Regions from separate parts of the Homo sapiens genome. Here region 2 is linked to region 1. Evidence: fine-mapped expression QTL. Tissue or cell type: Th17 cells. Region 1 holds a variant in brackets; the other region holds the start of a gene. All regions are shown on one strand. Distances are from middle to middle.

Region 1 (5,225 bases):
ATAATAATCAAGTGGGTTTCATACCAAGGATGCAGGGACCATTTAACATATACACATCAATAAATGTGATACACCACATAAACAGAATTAAAAACAAAAATCACACAATCATCTCAATAGATGCAGAAAAAAATGATTCAACAAAATCTAGCACCCCTTTGTGTCTAAAACTCTCAGCAACATCAGCATACAAGGAACATACCTCAAAGTAATAAAAGCCATCTATGACAAACCCACAGCCAATATAATACTGAAAAGGGAAAAGTTGAAAGCATTCGCTCTGAGAACAGGAATAAGACAAGGATGCCCACTCTCACCACTCCTCTTCAACATAGTACTGGAAGTCTAGCCAGAGCAATCAGACGAGAGAATGAAATAAAGGGTAGCCAAATCAGTAAAGAGGAAGTCAAACTGTCACTGTTTGCCTTGAAAACCCTAAAGACTCCTCCAGAAAGCTCCTAGAACTGACAAAAGAATTCAGCCAAAAGAATCTTGTTTTTGGATACAAGATTAATGTACATAAATCAGTAGCTCTTCTATACACCAACAGTGACCAAGCAGAGAATCAAATCAAGAACTCAACCCCTTTTCCAACTGCAAAAAAAAAAAACCTTAGGAATATACCTAACAAAGGATTCAAAAAACCTCTACAAGGAAAACTACAAAACACTGCTGAAAAAAATCATAGATGACACCAACAAATGGAAACACATCCCATGCTCATGAATGGGTAGGATCAATATTGTGAAAATGACCACACTACCAAAAGTAATTACAAATTCAGTGTAATCCCCATCAAAATACCACCATCATTCTTCACAGAACTAGAAAAAAATTCTAAAATTCATATGGAACCAAGAGAGCCCACATAACCAAAGCAAGACTAAGCAAAAAGAACAAATCTGGAGGCATCACACTACCTGATTTCAAACTATACTATAAGGCCATAGTCCCCAAAACAGCATGGTACTGGCATAAAAATAGGCACTAGACCAAATGAACAGAATAGAAAACCCAGGAATAAACCAAAATACTTAGGGCCAACTGATCTTTGACAAAGCAAGCAAAAACACAAAAGTAGGAAAAGGATACTCTATTCAACAAATGATGCTGGGATAATTGGCAAGCCACATATAGGAGAATTAAACTGGATCCTCATCTCTCACCTTAAACAAAAATCACTCAAGATGGATCATGGACTTTAAGACTTGAAACTATAAAAATTATAGAAGATAACATTGGAAAAACCCTTATAGACATTGGCTTAGGCAAGGATTTCATGACCAAGAACCGGAAAGCAAATGCAATAAAAACAAAGATAAATAGCTGGGAGCTAATTAAACTAAAGAGCTTGTGCACAGCAAAAGGAACAGTCAGCAGAGTAAAAAAACCCACAGAGTGGTACAAAATCTTCACAACCTATACATCTGACAAAGGGCTAACATCCAGAATCTACAACAAACTCAAATCAGTAAGAAAAAAACAGCCGGGTGTGGTGGCTCACACCTGTAATCCCAACACTTTGGGAGGCTGAGGTGGGCAGATCACCTGAGGTCAGGAGTTCCAGACTAGCCTGACCAACATGGTGAAACCCTGTATCTACTAAAAACACAAAATTAGCCAGGCGTGGTGGCAGGTGCCTGTAATCCCAGCTACTTGGGAGGCTGAGGCAGGAGAATCGCTTAAACCTGGGAGGCAGAGGTTGCAGTGAGCTGAGATCTCACCATTGCACTCCAGCCTGGGCAACAAGAGCGAGAGACTGTCTCAAAAAACAAACAAACAAACAATCCCATCAAAAAGTGGACTAAGGACATGAACAGACAATTCTCAAAAGAAGATATACAAATGTCCAACAAACACATTAAAAAATGCTCACCACCACTAATGATTAGGGAAACGCAAATCAAAACCACAATGAGATACCACCTCACTCCTGCAAGAATGGCCATAATCAAAAAAACAGTAGACGTTGGTGTGGATGCAGTGAACCAGTAACACTTCCACACTGCTGGTGGGAATGTATACTAGTACAACCACTATGGAAAACAGTGTGGAAATTCCTTAAAGAACTAAAAGAATTATCATTTGATCTCGCAATCCCAGTACTAGGTATCTACCCAGAGGAAAAGAAGTCATTATTTGAAAAAGATACTTGCACATGCATGTTTATAGCAGCACAATTTACAATTGCAAAATTGTGGAACCAACTCAAATGCTATCAACGAGTGGATTAAAAAAACTGTGGTGTGTGTATATATATATATATATATATATACACACACACACACACACATATACACGTATACATATATATACATATATACGTGTATATATACATATGTGTGTGTGTGTATATATATATATGTGTGTGAGTAT[ATG/A]TGTGTGTGTGTGTGTGTGTGTGTGATGGAATACTACACAGCCACGAAAACGAATGAATTAACAGCATTTGCAGTGACCTGGATGAGACTGGAGATTATAATTCTAAGTGAAGTAACTCAGGAATGGAAAACCAAACATCTTATGTTCTCACTGATATGTGGGAGTTAGCTATGAGGATGCGAAGGCACAGAATGATACCATGGACTTTGGGGGTTTGGGGAGAAAAATAGGAGGCAGTCAAGGGATAAAAGACTACAAATATGGTGCCTTGTATACTGCTCAGGTGATGAGTGCACCAAAATCTCACAAATCACCACTAAATAACTTACTCATGTAACCAAATACCACCAGCACCCCAATAACTTATAAAAAAAATTTTTTTAAAGATAATACAGCAATAGTCAAGTGGGTTTCATACCAGGAATGCAGGGATATACAAGTCAATAAATGTAATATATCCAGTAAACAGAATTAAAAACAAAACTCATATTATCCCAATCAACGCAGAAAAAGCATTTGACAAAATTCAGCATTGCTATATGATTAAAACCCTCAGAAAAATTGGCATGGAAGGGACATACCTCAAGGTAATAAAAGCTATCTGTGACCAACCGACAGCCAACATTATACTGAACAGGGAAAAGTTGAAAGCATTCCCCCTGAGAACTGGAACAAGCCAAGGATGCTCACTTTCACCACTTCTATTCAACATAGTACTGGAAGTCCTAGCCAGAGCAATCAGACATGAGAAAGAAATAAAGGGCATCCAAATCAGTAAAGAGGAAGTCAAACTATTGCAGTTCACTGATGATAAGATTGTATACCTAGAAAACTCTGAAGATTCATCCAAAAGGCTCCTAGATTGGATAAATGAATTCAGTAAAGTTTCAGGATACAAAAATCAATGTTCACAGGTCAGTAACACCACTAAATACCAACAGTGACCAAGATGAGACACAAATCAAGAACTCGATCCCTTTTACAACAGCTGCTATATGTATTATATATATTATATATTATAATGTTTTATTTTATAATATATAATATGTTATTTCAGCATTGCTTTATGATTAAAACCCTCAGAAAAATTGGCATGGAAGGGACATACCTCAAGGTAATAAAAACTATCTATGACACACACACATATATATATATATAAAACCAAGCAGGTGAAAGACCTCTACAAGGAAAACTACAAAACACTGCTGAAAGAAATCACTGATGACACAAACAAATGGAAACACATCCCATGCTCATGGGTAGATTCAATATTGTGAAAGCTGTCAAAAGCAATCTACACATTCAGTGCAACTCCTATCAAAGTACCATCATCATTCTTCACAGAACTAGAAAAAAAAATCTAAAATTCATATGGAACCAAAAAGGACCCCTCATAACCAAAGCAAGACTAAGCAAAAAAAAAAAAAAAAAAAAAAAAAAAAACATCTGGAGGCATCGCATTAACTGACTTCAAACTATCCTACAAGATTTATACCAGTACCAAAACAGCATGGTACCAATATAAAAATAGGCACATAGACCAATGGAACAGAATACAGAACCCAGAAATAAAGCCAAATACTTACAACCAACTCATCTTCAACAAAGAAAGCAAAAACACAAATAGGGAAGGGGCACCCTATTCAACAAATGGTGCTGGGATAACTGTCTAGCCACATACAGAAGAATGAAACTGGATCCTCATCTCTTACCTTATACAGACATCAACTCAAGATGGATCAAACACTTAAATGTAAGACCTGAAACCATAAAAACTTTAGAAAATAACGCTGGAAAAACTCTTCTAGACATTGGCTTAGGCAAAGATTTTAAGACCAAAAACCCCAAAGCAAATCTAACAAAAACAAAAATAAATAGATATTACCTAATGAAAACACTTCGGCACAGCAAAATAATCAGCAGTGTAAACAGACACCTCACTGAATGGGAGAAAATATTCAACTATGCGTCCTACAAAGGACTAATATGCAGAATCTACAAGGAACTCAAATCAGTAAGAAAAAAAGAAATAATCCCATCAAAAAGTGGGCAAAGAACATGAATAGACAGTTCTCAAAAGAAGATACACAAATGACTAACACATGAAAAAGAATGCTCAACATCACTAATTATCAGGGAAATGCAGATTAAAACCACAATGAAATACCACCTTACTTCTGCAAGACTGGCCATAATTTACAAAGTCAAAAAATAGTAGATGTTTGCATAGATGTGATGAAAAGGGCACTTTTACACTGATGGTGGGAATATAAACTAGTACATCCACTGTGGAAAACTTTATGGAGATTCCTTAAAGAACTAAAAGTAAAACTACCATTTGATCCAGCAGTCCCACTATTGAGTATATATCCAGAAGAAAAGAAGTCATTATATGAAAAAGCCACTTGCATCTGCATGTTTATAGGAGCAAAATACACAATTGCAAAAATATGGAACCAGCCTAAATGCCCCTCGACTGACAAGTGGATAAAGAAAATGTGATATATTTACACCATGGAATACTACTCAGCCATAAAAAGGACTGAAGTAATGGCATTTGCAGCAATTTGTACGGGAGTTGGAGACCACTATTCCAAGTGAAGTAACTCAGGAATGGGAAACCAAATATCGTGTATGTTCTCACTTATAAGGGTTTGCTGAACTATGAGGATGCAAAGGCATAAGAATGATATAATGGGCCGGGTGCAGTGGCTCACAACTGTAATCCCAGCACTTTGGGAGGCCAAGGCAGGCGGATCATGAAGTCAGGAGATTGAGACCATCCTGGCTAACATGGTGAAACCCTGTCTCTACTAAAAATACAAAAAATTAGTCGTCGTGGCACG
Region 2 (5,225 bases), 190 kb before region 1:
TGTAACTCAAGTGGGGAATAACATGCAAGTAACCCTTAAGGTGACTGCCGCACCCTGTGGCCCACACAGAGAGGCTCTCTGCCCAGCCCCACTTGTCTGCAAAGGATATCCTCCAGCCTGTCTAGAGTCCACAAGGTCCAGGCTGGAGAGAAAGAGGCCAAGGAGCCAGATGTCTCTCTCTCACCCACGACCTACTTTCTGAGATCTTACTTCCATACTGAAGACAGGCCTCCTTCCCAGGGGATACCAGAAGTCAGAGTTCCTTTCAGTGGGTCTTGCCTTATTATATTCAGTAATGTGGCCCAGCAAATAAATATGTCAATTCAACAATAAACCCTGTGTCTATACATGCAACGCTCCCTGGAACAGCAGGGAAAGGGAAGAGGAGGGGAATTTGATTACAAGTGCTTTATATTTACGCTGTCTCATGAGATGCTTCCAACAGGCCTATCAGATATTTTAGAACCATCATTCCTAATTTGCAGATAACAAAATTTTGGCTTGGAGAGGTTAAGGGAATGACCAAGCTAAGCCCAGTTCTCCTGTCTCCCTCCCTTGAGTTCAGGATACCAACCCAATCACTGAATCTTCCCCAGGAACGAGCCTGGGGCCAGGGTGAGAAAGGGGCTTCCCGGAAGTGCTGAGTTAAATCGGCACTGGATGCAGCCACGGACAAGGGGACATGGTGGTTGTCCCTCTCTCTGCCAAGTTGTAGGTCAGGAGACCTGGTTCAAGCCCAGGCTTTGCCACTTGGAAGACTGTATGGTCTGAAATCATTCTTCTCAGTGCCTCAGTTTCTGCATCTGTGAAACGGTGAGGAACAAACCAATTAATACACATAAAGCCCTTAGTGCCCTTGATGCCTAGAACATGTAAGTATTTAATAAATATCAACATTTTTATTAACATTGTTATTGTTACTGTTATTCCCTTCCAAAGTCTTGCAAGAAGTAAATGGGATGACAGATGTGAAAACACATTATAAGCTATAGAGGTAAGAAATGACCACTCATGTATGCTGAGAAGGTAACAGGAAAAAGGGCTTGGCCTTAGATAATGTCATTGAACAGCCTCAAACTTTCAACAGAAAGCACAGAAATATTCCAAAAAGAGTACTCCAATAATTTGAAACCAGGCCACCGAGTCCAAGTTCTTGCCACAGTTCCAGGGCCGAGGCTGTTTCCCAAGAGCCCTGTAATTGCTTTCAACCTGTGCCTCACCCAAACACCACGGCTGGCGCAGGTGGACACCTTCCGTCTCTTCTCCTTCCAGGCTGGGCCCCAGAAAGAAATACTCCAATAATTCACCTTGTGGTTTTCAACTTTAGACCAGATTGTTTGTTATGTATATAACTGTTTGCATTTCACTTACTTATCCTCAATCGTCACATACCTGGGAGGGAAGGAGGCTGCACAGAGCCCCCGGAGCCCCAGCCCCACGTGGTTACACCTGCCCACGCTTCTGGTCTAAGTAGTCCTTGGGTGCCTTAGTGTGAACGGAGCATACAATTAAGCTCTGTCTCTCTTTCTCAGCTAACTCAGGTGCAATCCTTCTTGACAGTCTGGAGGAACCAGGCAGGCTGGCCACCAAGTGAGGGGAAGTTGCTGCTAGCTCATTAATGGTTGAAAGCCCAATAGTACCACCCCTCACTGTCTTGTAGCAAAGACCCTTGGCTCATGTTTAGAATGTTAGCCAAATAGGAGTCACCGAGTGCAACTTTATGGCAGCACTCAGCTGGAAACAGTGGGGCATCTAGGGGAAGTGTCCGTGCTCGGTCCCTGCCCTTACACGGATCAGTCTGGCTGATGGAATGAGACGAATGAAATGGAAACAATGAGCAAATCATAAAAGGCAGTACTGTCATGAAGAGTTTGATTTTATGGCACAGAATGCAATTGTTAGAGTTAGAGTAGGGAGAGATGGCCAAGAGCTAGAGTGGGCAGGGAAGGTTCCTGTGGGAAGAGGTTAGCTGGGCCTTTCAGGTATGCAGGAGTTGAACTGGTGGGAGGGAGAGTGGCATTCCAAGTTGGGGAAGCTATGTGAGAGAATCTAGGAGACAGAAAAGAACAAGGGCTGTTTATAGAGCAGAGGCCAAACTGGCATGACTAGAGTAGAAGGAGGGCATCCTAATTCCCAGCCTTATCCACCGCTTTGCAAGAACCAGGAAAATGAATTCCTGTTGGCCATAAAACTAGTTGCAGGTGATGTAACCCATCCTATTCGGCCTCCCATATTTACAGCTATACAGGAACAACTCTCTGAAACTCAGTCTCCTCACCCGTAAAATGGGATGGTAATACGTGCCCCTGGGAGCCAGCGAGAATTAAAAGGGATAAGATGCACTGGCTCCCAGGGGCAAGCACTAGCAGACAAGGAATAGGGCAGTCCTCCCTTCACACTCCACAGAGAAGAAATGTCCTCCAACTCTCCCAGGAGGCAGAGCCCAGCTCTCCTTCCAAACAGCCTTGGAGTTGCTTGGCCTCTCCACTTCTTCAACGAAGTTGTGGGCAGAAGACAAATGCAGAGTTCTCTTGTACCTGACAAGGAGAGAGAAGCAGACCCTGTGTGAGTCTCTTGCTGTTGACGTTGATCCACAGGGGGTGCAGGATGGGACTGAGGCAGGCCCACCTGCCTGGAAAGCCTGCCTGTACCCTGACCCCATGGGGCCCTAACACACACCCTCCCAGCCACAGGGGCTCTGCAGAGCTAAGCCAGCTGTCCTATGGAGGTGGGGACCCTCCTCCTGCCCTGCCACTCTCTCTTTCTCCTGGAGAGGACAGGCAGGTGGGCATGGCCACAGGAGAACTTCTCGAAGGTGCTAACTGGCCCAGAGAAAGAAAGGTGGCCTGGTAGGGAGTTGTCTACCAGAGATTGAGAGAGCATGGGAGAAGTTGAGAGGGAGGAGGAAAGTGCACGCCATCCTGCGCGCAGCCTCGCCTTAGGGAAAGCATGTGTGAGAAGTGGTGGTAGGCGGTTGCTAGCCTTGGAAACAAACAAACAGCCAACCAAAAGGCTTCGGAAGGAAGGAGTGTCTAATTAATCAGCCCCGAGGGACAGGTCCGCACTGCCTGACTGTGCTCCTCAGCCTGGTTTCAGGCCACCGAGTCCAAGTTTCTGCCACAGTTCCAGGGCCGAGGCTGTTTCCAAAGAGCCCTGTAATTGTTTTCCACCTGTGTCTCACCCAAACACCAAGGCTGGCGCAGGTGGACACCTTCCCACTTTTCTCCCTCCAGGCTGGGCCCCAGAAATCAGTAGAGGAGGGAGGAATCAGTCAGCGTGGCCATGCCTGGGAGGAGAGGCCCGTGTGGGTCTGTGGGGCTAAGAGGCAAAGGCGGGTGGCGGATGTGGGCCAGCGGGAGCCTGGAGGGGTTGACACCGCCTGCTCCACCGCAAGCCCCTGGAGGAAGAGCCCCGCTGTGCCCGAGAGCGAGCGCGGGCAGGTGTAACTACCCGGGGCTGGGGCTCCGGGGGCTCCGCGCAGCCTCCTTCCCTCCCAGGGACACCGCCCAGCTGCGCCCCGCGCCCCGCCGACTGCGCGGGCCTTGAGACGCTGGTGGCTGCCTCGGGGTTGGCCTGCTCCTCGCGCACATGTTCAGGGTCATCCGCGCTGCGCCTCTGCTTCAGGTGCTTGGCTAGAGAAAGGGCGGCAAGACGGGGCAGTGCGTGTGCGCGCGCGGGCAAGTGCATGTGAGTGCACACTTATGTGAGCGCATGTGTGTCTGCGCTTGTGCGTGTCCAGGGGAACCACAGGGAGCACCCTCATTCTAAGCCTCCAGAGGACTGCCTGAAGCCGCTAGATAGAAACTCCCCTAGAATGTAAGCTCCGGGGGGGAGGGAGCTTTGTTTGATGGCTGCTGTATTCCCAGTGCCCATTGAAGTACTGGGGACACATTAGATGCTTAATAAACAGCTGTTGAGTTAATCAACGGACTCTAGGAATGGAGGCAGACCGGCCCTTCTGGAACTGGAGAAAGGACAAGGCCACATTTCACCGTCTCCTCTGTTCTTGGTACCAGCCCTGGCGTCCCCGGCAACGCCAATCCTTCTCACATCCAGCTTGTGCCAAGTTTTCCTCCCTGCTCGTGTTTACACCTTCTCCCCTTTGTCTCTGTTTCCTGCTGGCCCCTGTGTGTAAGCACCCCAGCAGTCAGAGTGAGAGGAAGACGAAAGAAGCAGAATTCTGGAAATAGAGAGCTACCAGGGTGGCCTCTTCCTTCTGGAAGGACACGGAAAGATGGGGTGAGACTGGCGCTCTTCTTCAGCTCCTCCCTTTGGGAATTGGGACTTTGAGCTTCAGTTTCCTCACTTTGAAATAGCAGCTATTCCACCTGCCTCGCAGGATTGTTGCAAGAAGTCAGGCAGGAGGCTGAAAAGTTCTGGAGCACATGATAGGTGCTACAGAAACGTTCGTTTCGTCTCCTGACTAGCATCCAACAGTCTGGGAGTGCCCCAGGTGTGGCTGAGGGTGGTTATGGTTTGATAACCACCACCAGAACACCCCTCCTTTTTTCACAAAATGCCTTGAGGAGAATTTAATGGCTGTCGAAAATTAAGGCAAGCTTCATTTCTAAAACATTCAGGAGTCAATATGTTGTGAGTCATGTATTCCGTCGGGGCCTCCACTCACTCCGGAGGGAGCTTTTCCAAGTAATTAAACAACGATGTCGTGATCAAGCTGAAGTCCACCAGCCCCAGCCTTTCCATTCGGGACCTTCTCCTGCACATGCTGCAGCTGCCTCCAAGACTACTGCGATGGAGATGAGCAGATTCTTCCTTCAGTTGTAGAGGGAGACACTGCGAAAACCTAATGCTGTCAATAACGCTTTTCATCTCGAAAGGAAGGATCCGATTTCACTCTTTTCAGCCTGATTTAAGGACCCACCAGAAAAAAACAAACTTCATGGGGTAATTAGGAAATTATCCTCTTACAAATTGGTAGATGTCGTCTTTTTTTCCTTGGGACAAGACAGAAAGGACATTGTTTGTCTTTTACCATGGTGAAGCTGCTGCGATTAACCATGCCACCTGGGGAATGGTTCACTTGTGGGTAAGCTGATAGCCTGCTGTTCCAGGGTGCGCCTGCCAAGGTACTCCAGAATAACATGTTACATCCTCTGTGCACCCCTTCCCGATGAAAGGAAAACTTCAATCACATTTAGTTAAAGGAGCCCTTTAAACCTGGCCTGTCAATATCCTGGAGGTGGAGAATTACACCAAGGTTAAGA

Direction of the effects. Alleles are on the strand shown, and positions count from the first base shown. SD is a standard deviation of normalised expression in the study named.
For the expression in Th17 cells of the gene that starts at base 2,537 in region 2, allele A in region 1 goes with a higher level than allele ATG (large effect, 0.91 SD a copy in Schmiedel 2018).

What was found. PIP is the estimated chance that this variant, and not a neighbour inherited with it, causes the effect. A credible set is the group of variants that fine-mapping cannot tell apart.
Region 2: LINC01395 starts here. The variant in region 1 is the best candidate, but not a certain one, in a credible set for the expression of LINC01395 in Th17 cells (Schmiedel 2018, PIP 0.66).

The regions. Positions count from the first base shown.
Region 1 is chr11:129,807,108-129,812,332 of GRCh38, forward strand. The region is part of intron 1 of LOC124902793 (a long non-coding RNA gene); the gene reads right to left. Among named protein-coding and RNA genes, the nearest start is that of TMEM45B, 6.1 kb to the right of the region's middle. The variant ATG/A (reference allele first, on the strand shown) is at 2,377.
Region 2 is chr11:129,614,733-129,619,957 of GRCh38, forward strand. LINC01395 (long intergenic non-protein coding RNA 1395) reads right to left here and starts at 2,537. Exons shown (of 4, transcript NR_120582.1): 1 at 2,279-2,537; 2 at 575-803.